Linked DNA regions of Homo sapiens: regions 1, 3 and 4 are each linked to region 2. Evidence: fine-mapped expression QTL. A gene starts in region 2. Each other region holds a variant in brackets. All regions are shown on one strand. Distances are between the middles of the regions. Region 1 overlaps KLHL31 (kelch like family member 31). Region 2 holds the start of GCLC (glutamate-cysteine ligase catalytic subunit). Region 3 has its middle 12 kb from the start of KILH. Region 4 overlaps GCLC (glutamate-cysteine ligase catalytic subunit).

Region 1 (8,144 bases), 100 kb before region 2:
CCCCCCATATGTGATTGAGTAAAGGATTTTGAAAGATATCCCATGACAACGTAATAAAGCTTAAAACAAGATCTGACCGAAAAGGAATAGGGATTCCACCCAGGGACCCTAAATTTGATAACCTTTGTGTTAGCGGACATTCCTCTTCCTCCATGCCTCAGGCCCCAGTTTATTTTCTACCATAAAATCATGCTCTCAATGAAGTAATTGATATGAATCATTTAATTTATAGCATAAATTTAAGTCATTTGGTTGTTTCAACTAGAAGGATTTGCATTTTATCCCTTGTCCTCTATTAAAGAAGAATTTCACATACCCTGGGAGCCTTACCCTCACCCTAAAAACTACACCAACCTGGTTAAAGGCAACCTTGGCCCTAATGTACACCCCGCGAAGATCACCAAATAAAACTATGTCCCTAAGGACCATTAGCCTTAAGCTTAGAGAGCTTGAAGTTTACACAACCAATAACAATAATTTTATTTGCCCCAATCTTTTATATGATAAGAATGATAGAAACATTTGGAATTTGTAGATTTGGTAGTAACTGGATGAATGGGTTCTCCTGTTGATAAATGCCATTGTTTCCCATTTAATATGGATCCTCCTGATTTCTTAAGTAAAAATCAAGCACTCATCTCACGTATATAAAAATATATACTCATTCTGTCCTATTTTTATTAATCTCATCTGCTCCAAATGAGCTTTGGATTTATAATCAAAGTGTACCCACTTGATAGCACTTTTCCTATATGTTTGCCAAGTTTTGGGGAAAGGGAATGACTGTAGTAAATGATACATATTTTCCTTTTTTATAATTTATCACTTTATTCTTTGACAGTTTATTTGTTTTGGAGAGGAAGTGGCCTATCAATTATGGGTTATGTGCAATTGGATTTTGAAAAATAAAACAAGCTATTTAGGAATTGAACATGAGATATATGGAAATATAATTTGGTTTTTGTTAATCTCATCCTCTCCACCTTGTGTAGATAGGTTATTGCTAGTTATGATATTTATTTCTAAAATATGTTATTTGAACTGTGAAAAGTGGTTCATATAGTACACTTTGTGGAACAATTTTATATCATTACCCCGATGAAAAGTTCAATCTCTGGATATTTAATGATAACACTCAGGTAAGGGCTACAAACGCTGTAAATTAAGAACAAGATATTATTAATGTAAAAGCGCTGGGCTGTTTCCTTATCCCACACAAAGAATCTTTTACCTTGGTATATGTGGATATGGTATATTACCTTGGTGTATGTATATGTGTGTATACGCACACACTCATACAACTGAGAAGCCTATAGTATATGGTTAATTTTTGGAGAAAAGGGTGTTTTATTGTGGGTTACAGATCATAAGTGAGTGAATAGATGTAATTCCTTGATGCACACCAATAGATGTGTTCCCATTGACATCTTAGAAGTATTGTATGAAGAGGAGGACCTAGGGCTTGAAATGAAATGAGAATCAATCAATTGCAACATTACATGATGGAATAATGAGAAGAGATACTGAAACTAGAGGATTTTTCATCTATCAAAGCTTGATAAATTAGGTTGTGCAAAAACTTGGCAGTGGCTTTCTAGAGATGAAACTGGAGACATGTTAGTGCTGGATAAATCATTTAAAATTACCATTTAATTTATTTTCTACATTGTTTATCTGAAGACTCAGAAAATCCACATATTTGAGCTTACCAGACTCTTGGGTGCATTGCTGTTCTATCTTCTGCTTCAACAGTTAGGAAAATAAAGACCAATATGAATTTGGAATGTCAGAATTTCTGACATAACACATTGGCGAGGAGTATGGAATGTAAGGGTCGGTGAAAGTTTCATATCCTGGAACATCTTGCATTGCCAATTGAAAGACATAAAAGTATGCAGAATCAAAATAATATGTGTCCACTTTCATGTGTAAGTGAAACATATTCTTTACACCAACTATTGAAGCAGTTGCTCCTAGAAACCTAGTTTCTCCAGATTTCCCAAGTGGAAAATATTTAGTATGTTTTAAGCTTACATTCAATTACTCCAGAGTCTTAGGACCCAACCATATACTTCCTTTTATTTTTTATTAAAGAAAATGACTTGTTATTTTTGTAACGGCTGAGTCCTGTGATCAAATAAAAGCATCAGTTCAATATATCAGGGAAATTGCATGTTACCCAGCAACTGAAATAATAAAATTCAAGCTCTCTTTTTCTAAATGGGCCAGAGACCTGATGAGAAAGTCTCCAGGAAGCCAAACTTTAACATACTTTGTCCATTTTTAGTTAGGTTCTTGGTGCCAAGTTGTCATCCCTGATGCATTAGTTGCTTTCAGTGCATTGAATGAATTTTATTTTTACTTCCTATGTTGTAAGAATGGTTTTGAATAGAAGGTCAGTGATGGTACAGATTCGTATAATTTTAAAACATGATTAGATGGTAGTGAAGTGTTATGAGTGAGGAGGTATAATTGATGTCATGAGGAAGTGAGTACTGAATGGTTCTATGATTTAAGGTAAAGCAGCAGTTGTAGTAAGTGTATTTTACAAATACACATGTAAATAGAGGTTTACCTGGAAATATGTACGTTCTAAAAGGTCAATTTTTTAATTTTATTTTTTTGCTGGTTATCCTGGCCAAGTGTCTTCAGAACTCATCCAAGTTACGAGACGAAATAAACTAAAATCACCTCATTAATTTTTTTCCCTTAGTTACAACCAAATGAATTTATGTAATCTCTGAATGAACTACATCCCTATTCCAGCCGCTGATGAATATGTTCTCCAGCACAAGGCAGCATTAAAAGGAAATACTTTTCAGTATTTCTTTTCATGCCAAAAAACCTACAGAATAATTTTCCAAACAGTCCTTTATTCGTAATTATAAGAATTAAACAATCTAAAATATTAAAGATTTACCCTCCAGCACATTCACTGGGTAAAGACCATTTAATTTGCCCTCTCAGGGAATTTGAAATAAATTATTTGTCCTGGATATTCTTTAAAAACTTTTTATTTATTCAGCAAATTTTGGCAAAAAAATTTCTTTCTTTGCTTAAAACATTCTGGTACTATATAAGGAACAACAAACTAAAATGTATGTAGTGTTATTTTGTAATCTCATCACTATCAATAAAGCTGCATTCAATAAGACCTTAGTCAATGACTAAATATGGACAGTTTTGAAATATCCTTTCTCTGATGATTGGGGTGTTTGTTTTTTTCTCTACTTAGTTTTCGTGATGATTCACCTAGACAAAACAACAGCAAATGACAAGTAATTGAAAAAATGTTTCAACAGCTTGAAGACTAGTGAAAGAAAAAGGTATAAAACATCAGTAGAGACTTGCTTTGTAACTCAAAGAAAAGCCCAACTCTGGTCTAGCTCAGCCCCGACTATTTAGAAGTCGTAGGTTAAGTGTGGTTTCT[C/T]TTCCTGTTTCCACCCTGACCACAGCCAGCTTGTCACAGGTTCATCATCATTTGCAACAAAACGTTTTAGGAAATAAAATCGCATTGTTGTGTAGACAATCCCTTATAGCCTTTCTCTTCTACCTTACCCCTCCAAATGAGCAAGTAAAATGTAACCAACATAAGATGCTCAACCTTTGATCTAATGTAGTACTTAAATAATAACATTCAGTTGAGGCCATCAAATCTAGGAAATTCTAAATGGCAGCAATGCTTTTCTTAAACTTCTCCAAGCCCTGTAATCATATAAATAGACTAGATAGCCTCAAACACAAAACAACTGGTGCCACAGTCCAAATTTTGAGCAGACCAGCCAGATGCCTCAGAGTTTCTTTGCATTTTCTTTAAACTCCCACATTACTCCAAGCTTCCCTACAGATTTGTACAGCCTCCCACAACAATCTTGGGGATGTCTCCACTCTCAATTACAGTGGGAAACTAGGCAGGATCTTTTTTCGCTAGGCCAGGTATAGACATGATGTATGCCCTCTCCAGGCTTCAGCACTGTGCTGAATTCTGTCTACATCTCTTTGGCCAGAACAGCCATCTGGCCTACTTAGATGAAAGGGAGCTAAGAAAAAGGTCTTCATGTCCAGGAGGAAAAGTAAAGTTTTCATATAGCATTGTCTCTGCACAATGAATGGCTAGTCATCTTCATACCTGGTTACCAAAGGAGCAAAGAGCTTCCCAGTCAAACTGCCTCCCCTCAGCCACACTGCTCTGGCCCTGATCACACCATAACAATGCTCTTCTCTCCCTTTCCTGGGTCACAAGACATGTACTCAGCTCCCCTATTATACCTTGCCTTTTTTCTTCTGAAGAACAAGCCCAGACAACTCTTGTAGCCTTTTCTCAATTCAGTGCCCTTACAGGTCAAGAGCATGTATTAAATGTATTCTGCCAGCCTTGAGTGTTTGCACAAATCTGGTTCCCAACAGCCATCAAATAAACCCATTTAATGTTAAGAATTGCCCTCCTCACCCCTCCCTCCCTGGGTCTCCTTGTTCTTCTCTTTCTGGAATCGTCTTAATTCTTCTTGATCTAACCTCTTCTAAAAGAATGTTGAGTGAAAATGATACATCTGTGACTTAATTCCTGCCACTCTAGCCATACTAGCAGGTTCCCAATACATGACGATTTGGGGAGAAGAGAACACATGTAGAGTCTAAAAGAGGACATACACGCATCTGTTCTTAATCCCCATTAGCAGAAGAGTATTCCTGAAAGGAAGAGGGGGAAGGAAGCTAAATGGTGGTAATCTGTCTCTCAAGTTTTATTCTGCAATATTAATGAAACGTTTCCATTTTTTGCAGAGTTCCAAACTGAAAAATGCTTTATTTCATTACAATTCTGCATATAAGTAGCAAAGAAAATTCTGTATGCCAAAAGAATCCTTTGTTGTTTAACAAATGTTCATTAGACATAATTATTTCCCAGCCTCATGCCCCTGATCATATTCTGTCTTTCTCTGCCCTGCTCTGTGCTCCGTCCCCTAGGGACTACATCATCCAGACTCAGGCTCTTTGGCTGAACATTTTATTCATCCAACGGGAGGTATCAGAAGGAGGTCAGAGGGCAGAAGCAAGTGGTTGGGATATTTTTTTCTGCCCTCTTCAGGCTTCAGCACTGTGCTTCTGGCCTAGGCTGTAACTTTCAACAACTCCAGCCCAGTGGCCTTTCCTCCCTTGTTCAAATCTCGCCATGCTTACGTGCCATCATAGCTTACCATCTCTGGATATTTTCCTGTTGATTTATGTTCTGCCATCTCTTTTAGAATATCATCCTTAAAGGTGAAAATTTTGTCTCGTTCACAGATGTACCTCCGGTGTCTAGAGTCATGCCTGGTGTATAGCAGGAGATCAATTTTTTGTGTGTGAAGTAAATAAGTGAATGAGTGAATGAAACAATAAAACCATCATGACCTACTGCTTGCTGATCTCTATTCCAATATTACTCATTTATTTAATCAGCAAATACTTATTAAGCATCTACTGCATGCAAAACACTTTCCCTTACCCCAGTAATCACTAGAGGGAAGCACATTAAAGTACACAACCATGATAACTAGGACTTTTCCAAACTTGCTGCAAGCCAAAAATTAAATTGTTAAGACACATTACAGGTGGAAGGAGTTATGCAACCAACACTTTCCATTTCTCAAAAAAAAAAAACTCAAAAGATTGATATCTCTATAGCTATGTCCCCATTAAAATTTTTTAAATTGCATGCATCTTCTCTATAATTGCCAATTCTTCAAAAACAGGTTAGGACTAGCTTCATCATTTAGCTAGTAAGCATTTATTCAGTGCTTACTAAGTACACACACACACACACATCATTTAAGTGTGAGTGTGTGCATATATACATATATTCTGCGTGTGTGTGTGTGTGTGTAAAATATATGGTCTTATGCTTGCATTCTGAAATTAAGAGCCATTATGATTACATCACCTTGTCTCATATGAGAGCTAAATAAGTTAATAGGTAAAGTTCATTTCTTTAAATACTTCTCATGGGCAGCCATGTTTTCAGAGACACGGGGAAACCTGAGAAGGTAGAGCCTACACACAGATACCCAGGGGCCTTTTTCTGACTCAAAAATGAGAGATAAACAGGGACTCCTGGAAGCAGAACCCTTGCAGCCCAATCCCTGGTGCCCTTCGGAACCCCAGACCAGTCTCCATTGAAGGTGTTTCATTTCCCTCATGGGTAAAAATACTGAGGACAAGTCACTCAATGCAGAGTCCTTGGAGATGGACAGTGAATCTCTGGGCCTGAGTCTTCCAGAGACACTTGGAGCGCAGTAGTCCATTCTCATGCTGCTAATAAAGACATAACTGGGACTGAGTAGTTTATAAAGGAAAGAGGTTTAATTGACTCACACAGTTCAGCATGGCTGGGGAGGCCTCAGGAAACTTACAACCATGGCTGAAGGGGAAGCAAGTACATCCTTCTTCACATGGCGGCAGCAACAAGAAGTGCTGAGCAAAAGGGGGAAAAGCCCCTTATAAAACCATCAGATCTCGTGAGAACTCACTCACTATCACCAGAACTGCCCCCATCATTCAACTACCTCCCACCGGATCCTTCCCCCGGGGATTATGGGAACTACAATTCAAGATGAGATTTGGGTGAGGACATAACCAAGCCATATCAAGGAGAGTGAGATATTGCATAAAGAAATAAGGGGTGGCAAATTCAGCTGAAAGAAGGACCGGCTCCTGCTTTGGAGGCACTCCACAGAGCCACATTTCTGAAGATGGTGAGGTGTAATGGAGACTGATCCTGGGACAGCTTTGGGAGCCTGCTGGAGATGGCAGGGCCACAAATGGACAAACGGAAAGAGTTACTATTGGAGGGGAGCCTCCCCATGTGGGACTGCTTGTTTTGAACAGGGACAAACTAGCTCCACCGAAAATCCATGAAATGTTAAGGCATTGCCAATTTCCATCATTCCCCCTGAATTCTTAAATTAAAATCCCACTTGATAAATTAGTGCCTTTGATGAAGCCATCCAGTCCTCTGCCCCTGCCTGCCGGCACTGACCAAATACAAAAGAAAGAGGGAGTCTTGAGGGGAAGGAGAGCCCTGTGACCTCTGCAGGAAGATCAGGGTTCCAGGCTGCAGAAGAAAACTTTAAATCAAGGGAAGAATGACCTTGCCCAGGGCTTTAGGCACATGGGTCCTCCGCTGCAGCATGTGCCACTGTCACTCCCTGACATGCGCTATGCAGAGAACAGGTATTACACAGCACTGCTTTGATGTCTCCCAGGTTTAATGTAGGGCCAAATAGGGCCTAGAGTGGCCAGAGCTCACAGGCTGGTTCCTCTGGCTGTGGCCGGCCTTTTCCATTTTTCCCTAATGCATTGTACAAACATTATCTCTTTCCATTTGTGCAGTGGGTAGAGCAAAGTTACAGAGCACTACTTTATAAAGCCTGGCCTCCCCCTCTCCCAGCCCCACTGATGCCTTTTGCTTAGTCACATGTTTGGGTCAAAGACAGAACACTCAGCAAGGTTCAGTGTGGTTGGCTGTGGCTCACAGAATACAGGCAACCAGGGGCAGAGCTGCAGTACTCATTAAAACCGTGGAGAGCTTGCTGACTGCCTCAAAAATCAGCAGTCCTGAGTATCTGTGCCGTGCTCTGCTAGTGTCTGAATGCTAGAGAGAGCACTCTACTCTTTTTAGACTTCCCAGAGATTCTAGTATCTGCTGCTATGACTGTTTTTTGTTTGTTTTGTTTGTTTGTGACAGGGTCTCACTCTGTCACCCAGGCTCAAGTGCAGTAGTGCTATCCTCTGCTGACTGTGTCCTCAACCTCCAGGCTCAACTGAACCTCCCAAGTAGTTGGGACTATAGGTACATGCCACCATGCCTGGACTGTGACTGTTTTTATAATAAAGACCCAACATACTTTAAGGAGGGGAAAAGAGCTGGCCAAACGATTTTCTGCCTGGGTCACAGAATATGGTAAAGTCAGGGAGAACATAGACTTGATTTCACCAGACTAAGAAGCCTTCAAGTCATTCTCAGTGAACGCCAATCCTCTGATGTTACAAGCGCTGTGTTGGGTAGCACTTGATGAGAATCTGAGTAAGTCCATCTCTTCACTTGAGGGGACAGTAGACCTTCACGACATAGAAAACCGAGACTAATAAGCTTTTATTTCATAAAT
Region 2 (8,141 bases):
ATCCCGGCTAAAACGGTAAAACCCCGTCTCTACTAAAAATACAAAAAATTAGCCGGGCATAGTGGCGGGCGCCTGTAGTCCCAGCTACTTGGGAGGCTGAGGCAGGAGAATGGCGTGAACCCGGGAGGCGGAGCTTGCAGTGAGCCGAGATCCCGCCACTGCACTCCAGCCTGGGCGACAGAGCGAGACTCCATCTCAAAAAAAAAAAAAAAAGAAAGAAATTTAACAGACAAAAAGCTTAAGGACTTCACAGGCAGATCCGCGGGTTTTGGGGAAAGGGTGTGTCAAGGGAGAAGAAAGGATGTAATGAAGGTTGGCATCAAGTCCCAGGAAGAATCACACTGAAGGCAGCCACCAGCTTCACCCAGGCTAAGTGGTGTAGTAGACAGCTTTGAAATATCACTGGAGTTCAAACCCCAGCTTAGCCACTACCTGTTACTTAGTATTACTGGATCTCAGTTGCCTCACTTATAAAATGTGGCAAAGATTAGTACTGTTTTACGGATACCAGCTCAAAGTGCCTGGCATAGAATGTGATATACTGGGACCCAAGCGACAGACCACCAAGGTCAAGGGATACTCAAGCCAAAGAGAGCGGTAAAGGCAGGGGCAGATAACCTAGAAGTGCCTTCCTCAGAGTCCCCTGGGCACTCTCTCTGTTTTCCTTATTTGATCTCGCGAAGCCGCTGACTCAAGGGAAACTGGGAATGGCGTGACCACAGAGAAAATGATGTATTTTTTGGTCCTTGGAGGCCCGAAACCCATCGTGTCTGAAACGACTGCGGCAATCCTAGCAGCAGCAGCAGCCCAGAGGTCAGGAGTGATGGACTGAGACTTTGCCCTAAGAAGCCTCCCCCAGATTGACCTCCGGCTCGGAGCCCGCACAAAGCGCTGAGTCACGGGGAGGCGGTGCCGCGCGCGGGGGAGGCGGGCCCGCGCAGTCACGTGGCGGGGGCTGTATCACAACAACTGCGCGGCGTGCGCCGCCCGCGGCCCACACCGCTTCCTCCCGCGACAGGCCGGCTCTCCGAGCATGCTCAGCTTGGCCTCACGACTGCACGGCGTCCCCCCATGCGGATCTCCACGGTCCAGGTTTTCCGGACGGCTCTGGGGGCGGGGCCTGTGTTGGTCCGCGGGGCTGCGAGGCGAGGTTGCGGTGCCAGGGCGCCGCTGGGCAGAGATGGGTTCCTGGAGAGCGGGTCTCGCGTTTTTCCGCGGAAGACACTACTGGGAATCGGCCTTTGGTCATGGTCTAGGGAAGAGCTGATTCTGCAAGATATGAGCTCCTTCTTTCCCCTTCAGCTATCGTTACAGCCCTGATGGAGCTGTCTGCTGAAAACTCACTTCCAGATGTCGAAACCTGGCCCTGGGTGCAGTCTACAGAATGAAATCGAGCAGTAGTGGACCTATGCAGGCAAAGCATTGTCAGAGGGGAGTAACTCTTGTTAAATATGACTTCAGTTGATCCGTGATGGGATTTTTGTTTTTTCTTTGTAACAGAAAAGGCTAAAGACACTGAGAGATCAAGGTTTAAATTGGGCATAACTGCCCTGTGGTGCAGCAGCGCCGGCGCCCTTTTTGGGATTGTCCAAAGCTCTGGGACCCCCGCTGGGGGAGCTGGTTCAGAATTCGGGGGGGTAGGATAGGGTGAGGGAGGTCCCTTATGTGAGTGTGAGCCGGGATCTAGGACAGAGTAACTCCAATTACAGTGTTAAACTCTTACTAGGTTCAGTGTCGCGTAGGGCTTTGGCTAGACTAGAATTTAGTCTATTATTGAACCGCCCAGGTCCATGATTCCTAACAGGTGCATGGGAAAAGTGTATGGTGTGCAGCAGGTGTATGGGAAAACTGCTTTGCAAAGTGTAAATCAAGGTCTACATCAGTACTGTTTCAATAAAGTGGAATGAGAGCCACATATGTAATCTTAAATTTTTCAGTAGCCTCCTTTAAAATTAAAAATAAAAGTGGGTGGGGGTGGTGGTAAATTAAATAACATACCACATCATATTTAACTCAAAATTTCCAAAATGCTATATCGCTATGTAATCAATATAAAACTTTTAATGAGATATTTACATCTTTTTATTCTACTGTCTTAGAATCTGGTGTGTGACTTACACTCACAACACATCTGGGCCACTAAGTTTTCATTGGAAATACTTGATCTGTAATTACATTTCATAAAATTTACAGTCAAAAATGGATTCACATTTCCAACTTGTTTCAAATTTACTTAAAAGTTTTCCAGTAACTGAATGGAATATCAGTTTTTAAATTTACATTTAAATTGATTAAATTAAAATGAAAATTTGGTTTCTCGGTCATGTTAGCCACATTTCAAATGTACATTGGCCAATGTGGCTGATGGCTGTCGTGTTGAACAATGCAGGTCTATGAGAATGTCAGATGACATTATGAGAATAACCCAATGATCCTTGGATGTCTTACCTACATGGGAAACACTGTTTCTCCCCCTCTCCCACTACCTGCTTTTCACGGAGAAGCTAACATTTATTAAGCACACACTCTATACCAAGCACTTTTCTAGAATTAAAGGTACAAAAGGCATAAGTCATCTGTGCCCCAGAGGAATTCACTATTTAGTGTGGAGCTATCTTTAAAATGACTCTATCATTAATGTACGAATGCAACCAAAACACAGAGAGGAATAACTGTGACTCAAGAGATGAACATGAGTGTGTCAGATGGAGAATTTCAAGCAGGAAAAACAACAGAGTGCCAGAACCATATACAGATCTGGTGAGGTTGGTGGGAGGGCAAAGGAGGTTGTTGAAAAGGCTGTGGAAAAATTAGAATGTGGTTTGATTTCTATCCCACCTGTGTGATGAGGATGGAAACATCTTCTCCTGAGCTTCAAACATCCCTACCACACACAGACACACACACACAGACACACAGACACACACACACACCATTGTGGAAATCCCAGCCAGACCTTGGGTATTCATGCCCCCAAGCCCTGTGAGGGGCACATCCAATATGAAGGCTGTGGGAGAAGAGAATCCTGCTATCATGTACTCACTCATTTAGCAATTAATAAGTGCTTACTAAATGTTAACTCTGTAGTGCGAGGGAAGAGGGTATGATAAATACACACTTTCTGGGTAGGTACATGTATGATCTAGTTGCCTTCACTTTTCCCCTGACAGGTCATTGCTCTGTCAACACATATTTATTAAACAATCACTTGGGGGCACGGTACCTCCTTCCTCTCCTTTCCCTCCGAGATAAGGCCAACTCTAGGTGTTCCCACTATCTTCAACCCCACCCCACGGTAGGCTCACAAGAACGTCATTTTGATCACTTAAGGGATGAATTTTAGGTTTAGATGGAGGATAAACTTTTGGAGATGGTTCCTCATATGGTCTGTCTGGAGACTTTTTGCAATAAATGGTGTCCGTGCCATCCAGAGAACATAGGTCACCAGTTAATCAAGACAGTAGGGAATAATGATTTACACATGTTGACAAATTGATTCCTCTTAATAACCAGGTCAATTTTTTGGCCAACACTATACACATGTACACTATGCACATAATTACGACATCTATAAAAGATAGAATTAATCTAATTTTATGCAGATATGGGAAGAACTCGTCCCAAGTCTCACAGTCAGTAAGTGATGGAGCCTAGAGTTGAACTGTTTCACTTCACTACCATGTTAATACTTTTCTCAACACATTCTGCCGCTCTCACTCTAAGTGTGAGGCCCTGTCCAACTAAAACATAATATGGTGAGTTCGTCATTGATTCAAATAATCAACTTTCTTCCCGAATCCCAAGTTTATCTCTTCTGATTAGGAAAAAAAATGCATTTTGATATGTCGCGTTTGCGTAAAGCGAGGCCGACCGCACGCCCCCTTCTCGCGAGCTGCTCCCCTCAACTGCGACCCAATCACCCTTGCACACGCCTCCTGAGCCCCCGCGGTTCCCACCGGGCTTCAGGCCACGCCTCCGCCGCTGCACCGCCTCCTCTCCCCGCCTTCGCCCGTAGTCTATAAAACCTGGAGCGCAGGATCGCGCCCAGGAGCGGCGAGCTAGCGGACGCAAAGACTGGGCATGCTCCGCGGCGGCGCAGGTTTTGGTCACAAGTAGGAAGAAGCCAGTGCACCAGACCGGCAAAGAGAAGCGGGAGCCGCCGCGGCAGCGCGGCCGTGGGGTCCGCCGCCGCCGCATCGGAGCGGGAGGAGGAGCAGCGGGGAGGGCGAGGCCGCCGGGCCGAGAGCCGTCCCGCCTGCTCTCGGTCTTCTGCCTTCGCCTCCGCGCGGTGCGTCGGACCCAGGGTCTGTCACCTGGGCGCCAGGGGCCGCCGCCGGGGAGCCGGAGCGGGCAGGACCCTCCCTCCGCCGACTGCGGCCCGAGAGCGCCCCCGCGGGGTGGAGCGGCAGCCGCCTTCTGCGGGCGGCTGAGTGTCCGTCTCGCGCCCGGAGCGGGCGACCGCCGTCAGCCCGGAGGAGGAGGAGGAGGAGGAGGGGGCGGCCATGGGGCTGCTGTCCCAGGGCTCGCCGCTGAGCTGGGAGGAAACCAAGCGCCATGCCGACCACGTGCGGCGGCACGGGATCCTCCAGTTCCTGCACATCTACCACGCCGTCAAGGACCGGCACAAGGACGTTCTCAAGTGGGGCGATGAGGTGAGCGCCCGCGGTCCCCGTCCCCGCCGGGCACCCGTGTCTGGCCGCCCGCGCTGCCTTTGTCTTGCCCTACGCCCCCGGCCCTATCGCGGTCCGCGTTCTCCACTGCGCCCGGGGGTCCTCGAGCGCCTCCCGGCCCCGGGAGCATCGTCCCTGCTTTCGCCTAGTCCGCGTCCAGGGCCATCCTCCTGACTAGACTCCTTTCTTGTTCATTCATTCTTTTGGGTTTTCCCCTTCATTCCATAAACACGGATTGGGCGCTGGGAGGGCGTGAGCATGAAAAAGTGACATTAGGTGCTGCGAGTCTTCAACCTAGTGTATCTGCAGACCGGCAACTACCATGATCCACCTTACAGGCTCAAAATTCGCTTTTGCGGTCAATATGAAAGAGATTTAAGTTTTCCTAGTAGGCCTGCTGCTTTTAGAAATCAGGTCTTCAGGATGTCCACTTCTGCCCTACCTCATGCAGGTGTCTTTTCCTTAAACCTCTCCAACTTCTCATCTTCCCTCCCCTCCAAAACACACACACTTCATAGCTATAAATTGAAACCAGTAAATTACGGCTCAGTTTCCTACATGGGGGAGGAACCTTCCCTTTCCTGTTTAATTCTAAGTGGGAATGCATTTAGAGTTTCAACATTAGGATTTGCTTGTGTCTTTCCATGGCCTAGGTCCAGCAACTAAACTTTACAAACCAGTGTTCTGCCTAGAGATGAAATGTCTCTAGATTCTCAGTAGGTTGAACCATTGTTTATTGGAATGATCTGGAATGCAGCAATGTTAAAACTGTTGATTTAGTGTCATCTGCCAAAACTTTTTGTGCCTTCCCTTTCTGTTTTTGAAAATTACGTGTGTATGCAGTACACATTAAATGACTTCTTGAGAAGTCCATCTCTGTTTTTGTTTTTAGCTTTTGCCTTAGATGGCTTGCCACCTGTGTAAATTGTTTATCTTTTGGCCAGTGTTGTTATCAATCTTGGCCTAAGTGCTGACGTGCTGTTACACCAGTGCAGAATATCTCCTTTCAAAAAGTTAGTTTTTTTTTTTTTTCTAAGATTGGGATTCTACCTCCTACAGCTGAAGAAATTGTGCTGTTTTAAATTAGGAAAGTATGATGACTAGTAATTCACATTTCTACAAAAAGTGGTTTGTCACACTTCTTTGAACAGAAAAAGCACAGCATGTGTTTTGGTGATGATTCTTCAGTTTTACTGTAAAGTTCATAGTTTCTTTACAGCATCTGCCATTTTGTATATTCATTTTTGTATTGTGTGTCACAGGAAAATGTAAGACGAAATTGGGCAGGGACATTATGCTTGTTCACCTCTGTTTTCCTAGAGCCCAGCCTTGTGCCTGGTGTAGTTGGCATCAGGTCCTTGTGGCATGAATGAGTGAATGAACTACTATTTCAAGTTCCCACTGTATGGTAACTAGTCATTGTAGAGCAGTTCAAAGTTTGACATTTTTTTGTGCTGCTCTTTTTTTTTGAGACAGAATCTTGCTCTGTCGCCCAGGCTGGAGTGCAATGGTGTGATCTCGGCTCACTGCAACCTCAGCCTCCCGGGTTCAAGCAATTCTCCTGCCTCAGCCTCCTGAGTAGCTGGGATTACAGGTGCCTGCCACCACGCCCAGCTAATTTTTGTATTTTTAGTAGAGATAGGGTTTCACCATGTTGGTCAGGGTGATCTCAAACTCCTGACTTTTCACCCGCCTCGGCTTCCCAAAGTGCTGGGATTACAGGCATGAGCCAATGTGCCGGGCCCTGTGCTGCTTTTGACATTTAACTAGGTCTCTCTACAAAGACAGGCAGTTCAAGTCTTTGGTAGTCATTGTCCCAGGTAGAACTACATCAACAGGAAATTTGCAGCACAGTTGGAGCTCAGCAACTCCTTCTGGAGACAACACCCCACCCCCCACCACCCCTTATCCATCTTTGTCCCATTTGGTGTATTCCTGCAAGACACTCCAGGAATCCTTAATCTTACCCTTTTAAAAAAGGCCTCTCCTGTTGGCAGGAAGAGCATTTAGAACTACCTATTTTAAGTAACTTTTGTAGTTGTTGGGTAAATTGAAGTGGGAAGAGCTGAAGAGTAGAGCCTTGAAGTACGTGTCTCTGCTTTAACAGGCTTTCATGGAGAGATTTGCAATAGGTTTACCTCCTTCCCACTCCAAAAGATCAAGGGGCTTGGAAAAGAGTGGCCATAATGCAAACTTGTATTATGCATCTATAAAGGAGAGAAAATTGGACCCAGCATTTCAGCCAGGTCATAACACTTCTTGAAAAAATTACGCTGAGCAGATCTGTGGAGAATTAGACTTTGGTATTGTATTAAGACTCTAATAATGGCTGGGCGTGGTGGCCCGTAATCCCAACACTTTGGAAGGCCCAGGCAGGAGGATTGCTTGAGCCCAGGAGTTGAAGGCCAGCCTGGGCAATATAGCGAGACCCCATCTCTACCAAAAATAAAAAATTAGTGGCATGTGCCTGTGGCCCCAACTACTCGGGAGGCTGAGATAGAAGGATCGCTTAAGCCTGGGAGTTTGAGGCTGCAGTGAGCCGTGATTGTTCAACTGCACTCTAGTCTGGGTGACAGTGAGACCCTAGCCCCCTACCCCAAAAAAAGATTTGATAACACTGCTCTTACCTTAAAATGTGTAAATGATGTTCACTGAAAACTTTCTTTAGTGACTGTTAAGACTATACCTTCACATTTCTTGTTCCAAATACTCTGTCATAAATTAAATACAAAGCTATAAATTGATTTTTTAAACCTCATTTGAAATGCTGCTTTTACCAGCATTTTACTGTTTTATGATCTATCCTTTCTGTTTCCCTAGACTATTTTGTTTTCCACAAGTTCCTTTGTTCCCCCACCGCCCCCCCACCCTACTAACATATTAATGTCTTTTGGAGTGGGGAGTAAACAAACTGAGGTGGAAAACTCATCTTAGAAGAAAAGCATAACCCGCTGCTCATTTTTTATTATTTTAAATTTGCTTCAGTTATGTCTCTGGGTGGAGTATAGAATTTTTGAGAAGAATAACATTCCTGCCCTGAAGTGTTGACAGTTGCCCGACACAAAGGAAAGAATTAAGATTGTGAAGACTGCCTAGGTGATTAAAGAAAAAGAAGCCCCACTCTACTTTTTCCTCCTGCCATGGCACTTCAGTGAAACCTTGGTCTCCCCCGCGCTTGTTCTACCTCCCGCCCTTGATCTGGGATGCAGATACTAATTCTCCATTGTGGTACCTCTCTACATTTCTTTTTTTCTTTTTTTTGAGACGGAGTCTCGCTCTTGTCACCCAGGCTGGAGTGCATGACGTGATCTCGGCTCACCGCAACCTCCGCCTCCCAGAGTTCAAGTGATTCTCCTGCCTCAGCCTCCTGAGTAGCTAGGATTATAAGGCACCCAACACCATGCCCGGCTAATTTTTGTATTTTTAGTAGAATCGGGGTTTCACCATGTTGGCCAGGCTGGTCTCGAACTC
Region 3 (8,144 bases), 40 kb before region 2:
ATAACTTGTAATCTTCCCTGAGCTTGACCTCTCTCTTGAGTTACAGGGTCATAATTTTAACTGCCTATTAAATATCCATCTATTTGTCCCACAGGCCTCTCCAACTTAACAGGCATAAAATCAAACTCATCATCTCCCCACTCTCATATTCTGCTGCGACTCTTATTTCTCGATGTCTCATCTCTAAGTCCACTGACTACCAAGCTGTTTAAACCAAATCTTGGAGACACACCAGGTTCTTTCCTTTCACTCATTGCTCTGTGCCATTATATGAGCACAGGATCCCTCCAAAGGCAGAGCCTGACACAAAGGTTTGCTTGTACTCAGTTTATTTGGGGAAGGGATCCCAAGGAACAGATGAGGGAACTTGGGGAAAGAGCCAATCCCCGGATACATAATCAAGATAGTCACTGCTGCAGGCAACCAGGAGCTCTGAGGAGCTGTGTAAAATGCCACTGAGAATTATCCTTCTGAAGCATAGAGGAAGGAGATATGCATAATACACATTCATATTATACCCTGGCTCCCATCCCCCAGGTCAGATTGCCCCCTGGAGTGTTATTCTTTTGCACTTCAAGTGTGTGCATCTGTCACAATGTCTCAGTGGGTTTCTGAGGACACCCACACAGCAAGAACAGAGAAGTAACAGAACAGCGTGAGATATGCGGTGCATCTGAGGCATTACCAGGACGTATCTGCACCTGTTGATGCCAAGTGAAATGTAAAAGGTGCCCCATATACCCACCAATCACAAACACTTATTCATACAGTTCACACATGCTCTCGTTTGTAGCCCTCATGTGCCTCTCAAATTGTACCCTCATCTTCTGTGGGCCTGACTGCCACGCAGTACCTAGTAAACATTAAAAAACATTTGACTCTCGGCCGGGCACGGTGGCTCACACCTGTAATCCGAGCACTTTGGAAGCCGAGGTGGGAGGATCACCTGAGGTCAGGAGTTGGAGACCCACCTGACCAACATGGTGAAACCACATCTCTACTAAAAATACAAAAAAATTAGCCAGGCATGGTGGTGCATGCCTGTAGTCCCAGCTACTTGGGAGGCTGAGGCAGGAGAATTGTTTGAACCCGGGAGGTGAAGGTAGCAGTGAGCCGAGATGGCACCACTGCAATCCAGCCTGGGTGACAGAGTGAGACTCTGTCTCAAAAAAAAAAAAAAAAAAATTGACTATAGAGAAATGCCCTCAACCCATCTTTTTCCTGGGTCCAGAATATTAGCAATATCTACACATAGAGATTTTCACAAGTGGTCCTCCTGATTTTAATTATCTTTTTGAGATTAAAAAAGGAAAAATGCTAAAAATAAACATGTGCTTTTCAGAGTAAAAAAAAAATAAAACTGCAAACCATGAGGAGTCACCAAACAGTTGCGACTGTGATCTTTTATTTTACAAAATTATAATTTTTCAGTGCATGCTAGACAGTTTGGGGTGAAACATGCCAAGCAAATTTGGAGGTTAAAAACTCTGGCAGACTGGAAAAATATTTTCAAGACTATACAAAAATTTAGAAAACAAACATTTGATTTTCAACATAGACAATTCAAAACTAAAACTATAAAGAAAACAAATCATTTTTTGCTATTTACATGATTGCTACATGCTATAAGGTAGATATTAAGCTCTATAAAGTAAATGGAGAAATTGGGCTCTTGAAAGTAAATGGAGAAATTAAGCTCTAGAAATTACTATAGGTGTGGCTGGATAATATTTTTAAACACAGTTTCACATGCACCCACTCACATTTCCATGCTCTCCTTGCCCTTTCAGATTAAGTCATCCAGGGCATTGTTCTTTAAAGCTTCAGGGCAGGTAACACCTGGCAAAGTGAAAATAACAATGGAATCAAATGTTTGGCATTTCAGTTTTGAAAGGCTGGGCCTTAGCTTAGAGACACATGATTTGGGAGCGTGCATTTTCTGAAATGGAGAAGGAGAAAGATGGAGAAGGAGAAAGATGGAGAAGAAAACTGTGTGATTAGAATACTTGAGAATTGAGAAGAGTATAGTGCTGCCCTGTCCGATATGTCAGCCACTAGCCATGTGTGGCTAAGCACTTGAAAATGATTAGTCCAAGATGAGGTGGACTGAAAGTGTAAATTACACATCAGATTTCAAAGACTTAGTAAGAAAAAAAAGTAAAATCTCTCATTAATTTTTACATAATTATATAAAGAAATCATAATAATTTGGATATATTGGGTTAAATAAAATATACTGTTAAAACTAATTTCACCTGGCCTGTTTCTTTTTTTTCTCTTCTTTTCTTTTTTCAAGATGAGGTCTTGCTGTGTTGCCCAGGCTGGGACTTGAATTCCTGGGCTTAAGTGATCCTCCCCTCTCAGCCTCCCAAGTAGCTGGGACTCCAAGTGTGTGCCACTGCCCTGGCTCCTTTTTAATTTTTTTCTAATGTGGTCATTTAAGACAGCCATATTGACATAATCTAGATACATCAAAGAGAGAAAATATTTTAAAACAAAAAGTAATTACTTTGGAAGAATAAAAGCCAATTACAATTACCACAATAAAGAAAAATAACATTATTATCTAAAATATTGTTACAGTCTAAATATATAATTAGAGTGAAGAACACATACAATAATTTCATTAGTGAAATGTTCAGATTAATTTGCTACAAGAAATAGATAACTTGAAAACAACTCTGGCTGGGCACGGTGGCTTATGCCTGTAATCCCAGCATTTTGGGAGGCCGAGGTGGGAGGATCACTTGAGCTCAGGAGTTCAAGACCAACCTGTGCAACATGGTGAAACTGCATCTCCACAAAACATACAAAAATTAGCCAGGGGTGGTGGCACATACCTGTAGTCCCAGCTACTTGGGAGACTGAGGTGGGAGGATCATTTGAGCCTGGGAGATTTGGTCTTTGGAGGAGATTGCAATAAGCCAGGATCACACCATTGCATTCCAGCCTGGGCAACAGAATGAGATCCCTGTCTAAAAAAAAAAAAGAAAAGACAAAGAAAGAGAAATAAATAAATAAATAAATAAATAAATAAATAAAGAGAGAGAAAGGAAAAACAACCCTAACATTTAATTAAATTCAGCACAACTATGAGGGTGATGTGTGCCGGGGCCAGTGGTAGTTGCTGGAGCTTTAAAGTTGAGAAAATCCCATGTGGTCTGCCTCCCGGAGAAAAGCACACATTTCAGAAAACAGTGATGGAGGAAATCCCTGGAGGTGCTGGAGGGGGTGGGTTTCCAGACCTGAGACATCAGAGAAAGCTTCTCAGAAAATGGATCATGTAACCTGGACCCTGAAAGAATAATTAGAGTTAGTCAAGCCAAATAGGGGAGGGAGGGGAGAAGAGTATTCCAGACAAAAGGAACTACATATTCAAATGCTGAGAGGTGAAGAGAACACTGATGAACCAAAAGAAATTAGGTTGGCTAGATGACAAAGTTTGGAAGAAATTAGATTGGAGAGTTAGGCACATTATGAATCATTCCCCTAATTTAAATCGTGAACTGTATGGGTGTTTATACAAAGGGAAGTGGAAAGAAATTAAAGAGTTTTAACAGAAGGGACGTTCATAACCAGATTTGCATTCTAAGGTCTTTCTGACAGCTGTGTGGAAAATGGAGGGGAAGTGGCAAGGCCGGGGCAAGTGCTCCAGTTACAAAGCTGCTTCATAATCTAGGCAAGAGAAGAGGATGGCTCGGGGCTGGGTAACATGGTAATGTGGCTGTGCGGATGAGGAGAACTGGATTTAAACAAGAACTATTCATGGGGATAGAACTGGTGGGACATATGAATGAACTGGAGATGGAAGAACTCAAGGATGATGCCTGGGTTTCTCTCTTGGGTAACTAGGTAAACAGCCATGTCAGACACTGCAGATGGGATACAAAAAGAGCTGAGGGAGCAAAAAGCAGTGTGCGGGTGGGGGAAGCGGAGGTTTCAATCTTCAGTTTTGGACATACTGAGATTGAGGTAGGTGCCTGAGAGATATCCAAGAGATGTTTTTCAGTAGATGGCTGGATTTCTGATGGTCAGGAGAGTGACTTCAATTGGAGACATTGCTTTGGAAGAGATGAATACATACAAGATAATCAAAGCTATGCAAGGGAGGAGATTGCACAGGAAGAGTGTGTAGAGGAAGAAGAGGAAAAGGCCCAGGACCTAAGCTGAAGGAACATCAATATTTAAAGATGGGGAGATACAAAAGAGCCCTCAACAGACACTGTAGAATGGTCAGAGTAACAGGAAAAAGAGCAGAAGATAGTGGTATAGCAGAAGCAAAGGGAGTAACGTTCTTCAAGAAGGGAGTGATCAACAATGTCACATGCTGCTAAGAGGTTAAAATAGAAATTGAGAAGTATCCATTGGATTTAGCAATACCAGGTTCTTTGTGGCCTTGGTGAGAAGGTTTCATTAGCATGGGAGAGCAGAAACCAGATTACAATGGGTTGAGGAGTGGCAAGTGAGAGAGAGACAGCACAGAGACAACTGCTGCATCCAATGGATTTACAGCCAAGGACTATAATTATGGCTTCCTAGAATATATCCCTTGGAGCCGTTGCATAGCAGGAATGAGTGACTGAGAGATGAGTGGATGGTGGATAGAACTCAGAGTGGTAATTTTTATATTTAAAAAGTAGCCTGTTGTTGAACTGAAAAGCAGTAAATACCAACCACTCCTTAAGCAAATGCTGACTGATAGTGTACTAGGCAGAGCAAGACTAAAAGCTGGGAGAATCGGCTGATCTTTCATCCAGCTACTAACCGAAAATTTTACCCCTCGCCCAACTTCAACTTCACGCTGTGCACCAGAGATAATAAAAAATAAAGATCTCT[G/A]TCAACTAATTCATTTAAATCCTTAGGTAAAAATTCAATAGAACCGACAGCCAGCTGCAAGAAATGTTACATTTTAAGACTCTATTTTTACTTTCTGAAATCATCCTAATCCAGTAGTCACAGCAGGTTAAATTAAGTTTTAAAAAATTTTAAGATAACTAAAAATTCTATATAACAATAGAATATATATATTCTGTATAACAATGCACCCCAAAATGTAGTGACTTAAAGCATGTATTATTGTCCTTGGTTCTGTGGATTGGAAAGAATCCAACACCTACTTTCCAATGGGTAGTTCTTTCGGTCTGGGCCTGCACAGCTGCTGGCTGCTGGCTCACTCACACATCTGTATGGTAGCTGGTGGTTCAGCTGGAGTTGGATGGGCTAAGAGAGCCTCCGACTTAGGTTTGGTGGCTGGTGTTTGTTAGTTGGAGTAACAGGGATGGCATGACCCTGTGTCTCTCTTCATCCAGAGGCTCATTCACATGGTTATCTCAAGGCTCGAAGAGCAGCAAGACAGCAAGCCCCAACAATGCACAAGCACCTTTCAAGCCTCTACTTGCAGTGCATTTATTTGTTAATAATGTCCCATTGGCCAATCAAGTCACATGACCAAGCCCAAATTCACCAGGTGGAGAAATAGAATTCACCTCATGATGGGAAGACCACAAATTCACATTGCATAGGGTATCCATAAAGAGATGAGATAATTTGTGTCTAATTTTACAATCGATCACAACTATTTTTTGCTTAAAAATACTTATTAGGAACTTCCTCCTAATTTAAACTTAGTGGAACCATAAACGTAATGAGTCATACATTTGCCACATGTTCACGAAATAAGACTCTTACTTCTTTTTTGTCTTCAAAAGTGGCACTAAATCACAATAAAGGAAGGGTATTCTGAGGACTTTGAGCTCCTTAAGGGGCTGTCTCTTTTCTGTATCCCCAACACTATGGTAACTTTATTTGAATGAATGAATGATTTATTACCTGTATCAGTCCTTTCTTGCATTGCCATAAAGAAATACCTGAGACTGGGTAATTTATAAGAAAAGTGGTTTAATTGGCTCATGGCTCTGCAGGCTGTACAGGAAGCATGGCGGCGTCTGCTTCTGGGGAGGCCTCAAGGAACTTTTACTCATGGTGGAAGGCAAAGTAGGAGCAGGTATGGATTAGTGGAGAGAAATCATGGAGAAATAGTAAGAGTAAGGGAGAGGATAAATACTTAGTGACTTACATTTTGGTGGTGACTAAGACTAATAGGCATCCCAGTCTATATAAAAATATCTTGATAATAGCTTAACATTGAAGGCTTTAATGGAAGGTGAAACAGAAACTACATGAGTTTCTCTGAATGACGGGTGGAGATTGAGTGTAAGGAAGTGCTTCTTGAACCTAAGTATACCTTAGAATCTCCTGAAGAACTTTTATAAAATACAGGTATCCTGGCCTCATTCCCAACCAATTAAATCAGAATCAGTGGGAACAGACCTGAGCACTGGTAATTTTTGGCAGTTGTATTCTCTTTAAAATCCCCAGGTGCAGTCAGTACTGAGAAATATTGGTATATGGCAGTGATTCTCAGAGTTGATCCCTGGACTAGTAGTGTCACTATGAGTTGGGGACTTGTTAGGAAACACATTATCAAGGCTTGCCCCAGATTTACTGAATCAGAAACTCTGGAGGTGGAGCCCAGCAATCCCTGTTTTAACAAACTCTCTGGGTGATTATGATGCATGTTAAAGTTTAAGAACCACTGGTATATGGTGGGGGTGGGAGCACAGGGGGAGTAGCTACACTGTATCTATAAGTATCCTTCATGGTCAGCAGAAGTTTCCTTCCCATCAGCATTTTATGAGAATTCTTACTGCGTCTCACCAAATTCTTTTTACATATGATTTATAGCAGAATTAGAGGCATAAAAGACAGGGGGAAAAATAAACAACATTATCTTACTTAAAACTGAACATTTTTCATATGTTTGTAATTAACATAAAACTTGCGTGCTACAGTTCAAATTGATTTCCTTGATTTTAACCTGAAATGAAAATGGAGATCAGCCAGTTACCATTCTGTGGAGAGACAAACACACTGAACAATTGCAAAAAGGATAACAAATAGTTCATCCAGCCTGCTTTTAGAAAAATCACAGAATAAAGGTAGTGTTTCAGTTACCAACTTTCAACCCAGTAATAGGAACATATGCAATGATATTTGATCATAGTCTCTATTTTTATTTTTAAAAACAGGAAAGAAAACAGAAACAAAATTTAAAAAAGAAAGAGAACCACTCTAAAAAAAAAGTTGAGAAAAAGAAAACTAATAAGAGGAAATTCCTCAAACTAAGCAAGTTTAAATATTGGCAGTATGTGGAGTAAAACACACACAAAAATGTGGTGTATACTTCCTGAAAATGTCAGCTGTTAAATGAAAGGAATCATGTTTCTGTATTTTCTTAAATAGAACTTGGCATATTCGAGGTGGTCCATAAGTTTTAAATAATAACAATTTGCTCTCCAATCTGGCCTCATTTAGCTTCCTTTTTCACTGTAACATCTCGACATTCTTCCAGTGCTTAGTTTGTAGAATTCACTGCAAAAAAAAAAAAAAAGAAAGAAAAGAAAAGAAAAGGCTAAGAATAAACATATGTAAGAAAAAAAAGAGGCAAAATAAAAGAGCAGCTTCTTCAAGCTTGGGCTCAACTAACAAATAAATCATTTATACTTAAAAAAAAAATCTTCTCACTTCAACATACAAACTATTAATCCAGATCTCCATTATTGCTTACTTAAACTAGTAACAGGGTTTCCTTCCTCCTTTTATTGCACTCTGCTGAAAGATTAATCTTCTCACAGCAAAACTCAAAAACTTTCAGTAACCTATCCCCCACTGCTGGCCCCTGAAGTACAGACAAGATCAGGCACAGGCCACAGATGCCCTGGGGAATCAGCCCTAGAAAAAAACTGTGAGAAACTCCTGGAGACACTAAAGGCCATCATAAACTTTGGGTGGGGAGGAATGCAGAGTTAGAATAATAGGTAGAGTGCTGCTAGGTTCTGCTCTCCTTTTCTCTCCTCTTTCCTTTGGACCATTGCCTGTCCCATAACCACTGTGAGTCAGGAGGCAGCAGCAATCACCCACGCTAAAAAGGGGAGGCTGACCAGCTTCCCTGAGCACTCACTCCTCCAGTCCTCCTCATGTGTGGTAAATGGTGCATCACTTATGAGATGACTACCGGCTCCCTTTCAAAGGCTTTAGAGGAGAATCCCTAGCAGAGTAATGCCTAGTGGAGGGGCAACAGATGG
Region 4 (8,000 bases), 40 kb after region 2:
TCACTGCTTGGGGAGCATGCTAATGATTCCTTGGTGTTAATAACTTTGCAATTCTTAAACAGGTGACATTCCAAGCCTGCAGTATATCTGAGGCCAGATACCTTTATGATCAGTTGGCTACTATCTGTCCAATTGTTGTAAGTAGAAATTACCTCTTATTTTAAATACTACTTCGTATGAAATAAGATAGCATGTGCAGAATTTACTGACAGTGTGCTATTTAAGTCCAGTTAAGACCTCAGTCAGAGATGGACTAATATAAATAGTATGTAGGTTTAGGTATAATGAACTGAGAGTCTACACTGTAGAAGTTTACTCTTGCTAGTACAACATTGATTTGTTAAATGTGAAGTTTGAATGTGGCCATTTTCCCTCCCCCATACTTCATGTCCTCACATTAGAGAGAGGATGATTTAAGTGAATCAAACCCAAGGAACTGGATTCTTCCTGGTATATTTCACTGTAAGATAGGCACAGGTACATGTGCTCTGTATGGGTTGCATAAACATGCTTTTTGATCAGAAATATAACTGCATGGAGCTTTTTTTAGCATGTAAGTGACACTTTGAATTTGCAGGAGCTGACTTTTGTTTGTTTTTAGATGGCTTTGAGTGCTGCATCTCCCTTTTACCGAGGCTATGTGTCAGACATTGATTGTCGCTGGGGAGTGATTTCTGCATCTGTAGATGATAGAACTCGGGAGGAGCGAGGACTGGAGGTGGGAATTGTTTTTCCTTAATAGCCCTTTTAAGTCAAGCAGGTAAAATGGATCTTTTGTAACTACTTGCAATTTCAGGATGTCTCCCTGCAATTTTTATCTGAAATGGGGAAAAAGATTTGGTCTAGGTGGGGAGTTAATTTTTATCGTATGTTGATGTCTGTATTTGTTTTAGCTTCATTTAAAATTAGTAGTCCGATTTTTCTATATTTTGGAAGTGCTGATGGCTGTTTTTACCAAAAGGCTTTTTGGTGCCACATGAGTGTTTTGTATATGGTGCTTTCTGCTGTGGAAAGTATAATTTGTTGTCAGAGATTCTTTTTCCATGTAAAAGGTTAGGCATTGACTAATAAGGGTGAGATGGCACCTCTTGTTTGCATGTTGAACTGTAAAGTAACCCTTGCATCTCTCCAACAAGGGGTGTGCATCAGAACCACCCATGGAAATCTTTGAAAATAGACACCCAGACCCTATCCTAGACCTACTAAATAAGAATCTCTAGGATGGGACCCGAACAAGGGTGTTTTTAAAGGAGCCCTCATAAGTGGTTTTGATATTCTCAACCAGGGCTATACTACTACTGCTCTGGTCTTCATGTAATTGTTCATAAATTGTTGAACATGCTTTCTAAGTAGAAATAAACTTTAAAGGATAATTATTTTGATAGGTTTATCTTACGTTATAGATTTATTTATTTATTTGCTTTTAACCTTAGTATTTATTTTCCCTAGCTTAATAAGAATGAAAGTGATCTGCTTTTAAAAGATAAAAGTATATTTAAATCATACCAGAAAAAAAGGGTATTTAAATTGCCTTCAGATTTTAAAAAACATAATTTTCCTTAATAATACTTTTTAGGGCTCACTAACTTTTTTTCTGTATCTTATGTTGAGGTTTTTATATAATTATCATATATAAAAATATATTCCACTCATTTTATATAGCATATTCATTTATATATATTTTTAATCTTTAGCCATTGAAGAACAATAACTATAGGATCAGTAAATCCCGATATGACTCAATAGACAGCTATTTATCTAAGTGTGGTGAGAAATATAATGACATCGACTTGACGATAGATAAAGAGATCTACGAACAGCTGTTGCAGGAAGGTGGGTTTCTACTCCATCTTTCTGGGTTTGAATGTACGCCTTTAGTTCTTCAAAGCTCTTTTACACTTTTTTGCTGACTCCTGGTCTGGTTTCTATTTTTAGTGCAAAGTCTTTAACTTCTCTCATGAGGCTACTTGTTCCTAAAGTTTCAGGTTCCAAATACTTGTGAGATTTTCTTGATTTTTAGCAAAAGGAGCTTACTTTGGAGGTCTGTGTCTAGGTCCACACCAGTGCCCCAGCAGGCATTGTGTAAGTAGTGAATAAAACGCTGACACTCCCGCAGTGTCCGCAGGATAAAATACTGGGTGAGGTGAGGATACTAATCAAACCAGCTATTTCAAGCTTCTAGACACCCTTTCTTCAAACTTCCTGAGCTATCCTGTCGTCTTTCTGGACTAAGAGGAAGTGGTATCTCTCGCTTTGCAGTGAGTTCCCATGTGATCTCTTTTTGCAGGCATTGATCATCTCCTGGCCCAGCATGTTGCTCATCTCTTTATTAGAGACCCACTGACACTGTTTGAAGAGAAAATACACCTGGATGATGCTAATGAGTCTGACCATTTTGAGGTATCTTCTCAGTTTTATTTTTATTTATTTATGTATTGACTTCTGAGAGTCTGGAATCCTCTGTTTTATATGCATTTCACTTCACAAACCAACATGGGGAGGCAGTTTTCTGTACCTGTGGAGAACACAAAAGAAATTTCATAAGACTTTCATTTACCCAGTGCAGTAAAGAACTTGGACAAATAAAAAATCGGTTTCAAGTACTCTTATTTTACGATTCTTACTGTTTATCTCACTGATTCTAATTTTTTTTTTTATTGTTCAGTATTTTCTTATTTGCCTAGTGGTGAAAAATTCAAACATACACTGCACAAAAAATAACCTGATCAGTTATTTCAGTGCTTCAGACATATCACCTTTTTTTTTTGTAGATAGACTTCTCATAGATTTATTTCTGTGTCATGTTATATGTAGACATTGACATATATACCTTTTGAAATACCATCTATATCCCCTTTCTTTCCCCCACCAAACTCACAAAAGGAGATATAAATCCTTCCAGTCTTGCCATCGGGTCCCAAGATGGTCAGGACGGAGAAAGAACTCTCTCTCAGTGTATTGAGAAACAGCTACCCTTCTTAGGCTCTTGGGTCATCGAAGCAGCAGCATTCCCAGGAGAGGAGGAAGAAAGGAAACAACTGTCATGTGACAGGGTTCTCAGATGAAAGTGTCCAGTGTCACCTGGAAAGGCAGGCTGGCTCCTAAAATTCTCAGGGATGAAGGTGGGGGCCCCGTGGCTCTTCAGATGCTGCTCTGTAGCTGGGAGATAGGGAGTAGGAGCTGGGTGAGATTAAGCTTGCAGTGATAGGGCCTCATAGCTTTTGTTAAACACTTGGCTGTTTTGTTTTCCTAAAAGAGCACACTCGAAGAAAATCTTCAATTGTACCTTTTTGTCTTTGTCAATTGAAATTTGGTATGGACAGTGAGCAGTCTTCTTCCTTAATTAAATACCAGATCATCTTAATATTTTCCTGGATGTGTGAAAAGTTGGTTTTCTTCTCTGCTTTTGTATCACAGAATATTCAGTCCACAAATTGGCAGACAATGAGATTTAAGCCCCCTCCTCCAAACTCAGACATTGGATGGAGAGTAGAATTTCGACCCATGGAGGTAAGACACATGCATCAGCAAGAACTGACTCAAAAGTACTCTTTCGCCAGCTGTTCATCACCCTTCTGATGCTGCTATGAGAAGGCTCTTATATATAAAATAAAAATTAAGTATGTGCATGGTAGCAAGTCAGTCCAAGTTAAGGAGGGTTGATTTCTGAGAATAGATGTGGGCAAAGGGCTTCCAGACCCAGATGGGGAATTAGGAGATGGCTTGGGAATGACATGATCTGAGGAAGGGCCTGGGTCAGGGAAGAGCATGTTTGTGTAGTTGGTTCATAACTTCTCTGGGCTTCTGCTTGTCTAGGTGCAATTAACAGACTTTGAGAACTCTGCCTATGTGGTGTTTGTGGTACTGCTCACCAGAGTGATCCTTTCCTACAAATTGGATTTTCTCATTCCACTGTCAAAGGTAAGGATATGTTTCTTTATGGTGATGGGTATAGATCTATCTGTAGATATATTTATTTATATATGCTATTTATTTCCCACCT[A/G]ATTTCATTTGAAATTGTTTACCCTTTGCAATAAAATGTTTCTCCATCAGCCCTATTCTTTATTTTCTTTTAAACCTAAGCTTAATTTCTAGACGCTTTCCATTCAAGATGATTGATGGCTAGAAGTAGTCCTACACATTGATTTCATCCACCACAAAATCCCAGGTTGATTACAATGTTAAATTAGGATGGGGAGGGAAAGTGTAACTGCTGGAATGCCGGTAAAAGTCTCCTCAGTAGAACTGAACTTGAGATATTTCTGAAGAATTCGGATGGGATTGAACTCTCAGAAAAACAAATTGGAGTTAATCTGCCCCCCAAAAGACCAAAAAACAAGCTTTCTGGGAGGAGTTTGCCAGCAAAACAACTCCAGGTGATGAGGGAGCAGAGCTGTGGGTTGTGGAGCAGTAGCTGAGGAGGTGAACGCCTTTGGTTTCTGGGCCAGGGTTCCTCTTGGCAGAGAGTGGCTGGGAAAAACTGCTAAATAGAGAGGGCCCTGCCGCAGGGGTTCCTGGTTGAGGGTTTCGGGGCCAGAGAATGGAGAAGTAGGGTAGCCCTGTCACAGCAAACATGGAAGCAAGAATGAAACTGCTTAGCTCCAGCATCTGCCCCTGGGGCATCTCCTTCCTCCATGAGGGGTTTGCCAGACTGTGCTCATCCCCACACCCCCTGAAGGAAATCTGGCTGTCAGCCCATCCCTGCCTGCTCCTCACACCCAGACCAAAGGTCACCCACAGAACTCTGTGGGCCCACATTGCCCTCATGCCTACCTACTGGGGAGACCAAATCCATCTAAGAGAGATTCCATGTAAGCTACCAGTCTAAGCCTTTGCTTATAAATAAGAATAGATGCTTGGAAGGCAACAGAAAATTGAGAACAATTAACAGCCTTAAAGAGAAGGGCCTACTGGTCTTGCAAGGGCATACTCTGTAAAGTCAAACTTAGTTACTTCAAGGAAGTAAGCTGGGCCCAGCGCAAATCTATAATCTCTGCTCCTCAGGAGGCTGAGGCAGGAGGATTGCTTGAATCCAGGAATTCTAGTGCAGCCCCGACAACATTGCCAGATCCCATCTCTTGAAAAAAAAAAGCAACTGGAAAGAATTACTATTTTTTAAAAAATACTTTTAAACCTTTTTTAGAGACAGGGTCTCACTATGTTGCTCAGGCTGGTCTCGAACTCCTGGGCTGAAATGATCGTCCTCCTGCTGCCTCAGCCTTCCAGGTAGCTGGAATTACAGACACAAACCACCATGCTCAGCTTTGGAAAGAGTTCTTAAAGGAATTCTAATTAGTGGCCTCAGACAAATTCTAGAGAGGTTCAGTCACATCCATAAAACAAGTATTATAGATTGTGCTTATTTAATGGTGAGTATTCTCACCAGTAGAGCAGATGTTGAATATCCAAGGTAGTGATTTAAAAGACCAAATGAAGATTAATCCCAGCAGGATGGTGAAGAAATGGAAATTATGGAAATCCTGAAGCATGGAAAGCTCTGGAAAATTCAATGTTTGTGTAATAATTTAGAAGAGGAGAATAGTTTATATAGGAAAGATATACAATAATCAAAGAAATAATAGAATTTTTCCTTAATAAGTCTTCCTTAAGGATGAGACAAATATTTAACTCAAATGTAGGCATTTATTAATCTCAAAGAGAAAATTAACTGTCCGGACAGGAGAAAAAATTAGGAGACATGAAAAGGGGGGAAAATCAACTGATATTACTTTTCATTTGCAACATTAAATGCTAGATGGAAAGAAGTTTTCAGAATCTCGAGAGGTAAAGAATTAACAACCACAGAATTATCTTCTCAGCCAAATTATTCTTTAAATTTCAGGTGATTCTAACAAAACTGAATGGATCAAGTTAGGGCTAAAAGTATGCCAGAAGTCTTATCTAGTGTCTTGGTTTGTTTGGGCTGCTGTAACAAAAATACCTTACAGTGGGTGGCTTATAAACAACAGGAATGTATTGCTCACAGTTCTGGAGGCTGGGAAGTTCACGATCAAGTCACCGGCAGTTTCGGTGTGTGGTGAGAGCTTTTGCTCTCTGGTTCATACATGGTGCCTTCTTGCTGTGTTCTTACATGGTGGAAGGAGCTAACTAGCTCTTCAGATGTCTCTTCGTAATACCAGTTATGAGGGTAGGGCCTTCATGACCTCCCAAAGGAGGTCCTCCCAATTGCCTCCCAAAGGCCCTACTTTCTAATACTGTCACAATGGGCATTAGGCGTCAGTGTATGAATTTAAGGGAACACAGACATTCAGACCATAGCACCTTGTAAGGGGATATGGAAGGAGATGAATGGTAGATACTCATTAGTGCTTGACACTTAGAGAGTTATAATTTCAAAACTACCTCTTTAAGGAAAACTATTAATAGTATAGAAACAGGATTTATTACTTTTAAACTTGCTGGCGAAAGGGTGGCAAAATGAACCACAAATACATTTCAGTGCCACAAAATTGGGTGTGGGGCCAGGGGAGTGATGAAACAATAGCCCATAGAACATAAAGTGGTGAAAATAAAATGAAAACAAATTTGAATAGACTAAACTCTATCCTATTAAACAGCTGAAACAGATAATATAAAATAGCAACACAGTTTGCATAAGATGTACGTAGAACAAGGACAGATGCCGACAAGAGCTGCATAGTGACCTTTTGGAATGATAGCAGGAATGGCAAAGCAATATCAGGCAAAATGTGAGGTAGAAATTATTAAATGGGATAGAGAAAGCAGTTTTATATATTCTTCCAAGATGATGTGAAAGCTGTGGTCCTTTTTGTACCATGAAATGTAACATGAAAAGAGTTTAGTGTGATGGGTAATACATGGCTTTGATGTGAGAACTAAATGCATAAATCCCTGGTACTATTTACTAGGCTTTTAACCTGGACAAGTGACTTATTCTCAGTGCCTCAGTTTCCCACATGTATCCCAGAGGGGAATAAGTAGGCTGTTGTAAGCCCGTGTGGGGATTAATGGAGGTAAACCACTTAACAGAGTACCTTGCATGTTACTCAGTAACTGACAGGCCATATAATCAAAGGATGGGAAAGGCCATGGGGGAATTAAAGGCATGGTTAATAAGCTTGGTTGTATGCGTATATTACGTATCTCATACCACATCTTTTTTCAAATGCCATGAGTAAGATTTACAAAAATTAAAGAAAATCTTCACTTCTCAAAAGTAGACATAATACAGCATGCGTTCCCGCTAAAATTCAACGAAAGAGATACTCTGGAGAAATTTAACATTGGAAATTAAAAATGTCTTTCCAAGTAGATTTTAGATTAACCAAAACTAGAATTACAGATTGTGTAGGAAAGTGAAAGACATGCTGGCAGAGCTGATGTCTAAGGAAAAATTATAGCTTTAAATGTCTTAACAAAAAGATTTTAAATCTAAGTCATTGAGTATCTAAAGAGCAAAGTAAAATATACTTTGAAAGGAAGTCATCAAAGCACAAATTATAAGTGGTCGTTATGAACTTTTTTCAAGACTAAGGAAAAAAGAAACAAATATTAATAATGAAAGCAGATGTTCACAGCCATGGTGGAATGTATACTATTTATTTGAGTATGCTCCTAGAGTATCTAGATTCTTCAGAAGGTCCTGTGTGTCTCTTAAAAAATGAAACCATAACAATCGCACTCCCTGCATAATGAATATGGGAGGAGACTTGGTAATCAAGAGAGCTTATGTACCATCTGTCCCATGTCAGCCTGGCCCTCTAACTGGTCACTGTTGTATATATTGAGGTCCCACATAAGATTTCATTATAGAAAATAAGGGATTACTACTAAAACGTTTTTTAAATTCTGCTTTGAGAGTCTTAAAAAGTCATTGGAGATACAGAGAATTCACAAATAAAACAGTTTTCGGTTTCATGAGTGAGTCTACATGTCCGGAGGCACCAGATGGGTAAAACAGCAGTGATCTTCTGCCCTTGGGAGGGCTGTAACCTTATTCCAGATATGACAACCTATGA

What was found.
Region 1: its variant is fine-mapped to the expression of GCLC in whole blood (TOPMed, PIP above 0.99).
Region 3: its variant is fine-mapped to the expression of GCLC in whole blood (TOPMed, PIP above 0.99). The same link has a PIP of 0.9 or more in blood mononuclear cells.
Region 4: its variant is fine-mapped to the expression of GCLC in whole blood (INTERVAL, PIP 0.97).

What each region holds. Positions count from the first base shown.
Region 1 is chr6:53,642,931-53,651,074 of GRCh38, reverse strand. It overlaps KLHL31 (kelch like family member 31), which reads left to right. Exons shown (of 3, transcript NM_001003760.5): 3 at 1-3,159. Among named protein-coding and RNA genes, the nearest start is that of LINC01564, 19 kb to the right of the region's middle. RefSeq lists an enhancer at 7,310-7,604. The variant C/T (reference allele first, on the strand shown) is at 3,431.
Region 2 is chr6:53,541,007-53,549,147 of GRCh38, reverse strand. It overlaps GCLC (glutamate-cysteine ligase catalytic subunit), which reads left to right and starts at 4,047. Exons shown (of 16, transcript NM_001498.4): 1 at 4,047-4,652. The coding sequence starts at 4,503. RefSeq lists silencers at 777-1,006, 4,074-4,503 and enhancers at 4,724-4,783, 4,622-5,363, 6,302-6,939.
Region 3 is chr6:53,581,159-53,589,302 of GRCh38, reverse strand. No RefSeq gene overlaps it. Among named protein-coding and RNA genes, the nearest start is that of KILH, 12 kb to the right of the region's middle. The variant G/A (reference allele first, on the strand shown) is at 4,837.
Region 4 is chr6:53,501,313-53,509,312 of GRCh38, reverse strand. It overlaps GCLC (glutamate-cysteine ligase catalytic subunit), which reads left to right. Exons shown (of 16, transcript NM_001498.4): 7 at 63-137; 8 at 602-718; 9 at 1,695-1,833; 10 at 2,288-2,400; 11 at 3,418-3,510; 12 at 3,817-3,921. It overlaps GCLC-AS1 (GCLC antisense RNA 1), which reads right to left. Exons shown (of 5, transcript NR_183318.1): 4 at 2,879-3,159; 5 at 2,402-2,515. Among named protein-coding and RNA genes, the nearest start is that of GCLC, 40 kb to the left of the region's middle. The variant A/G (reference allele first, on the strand shown) is at 4,004.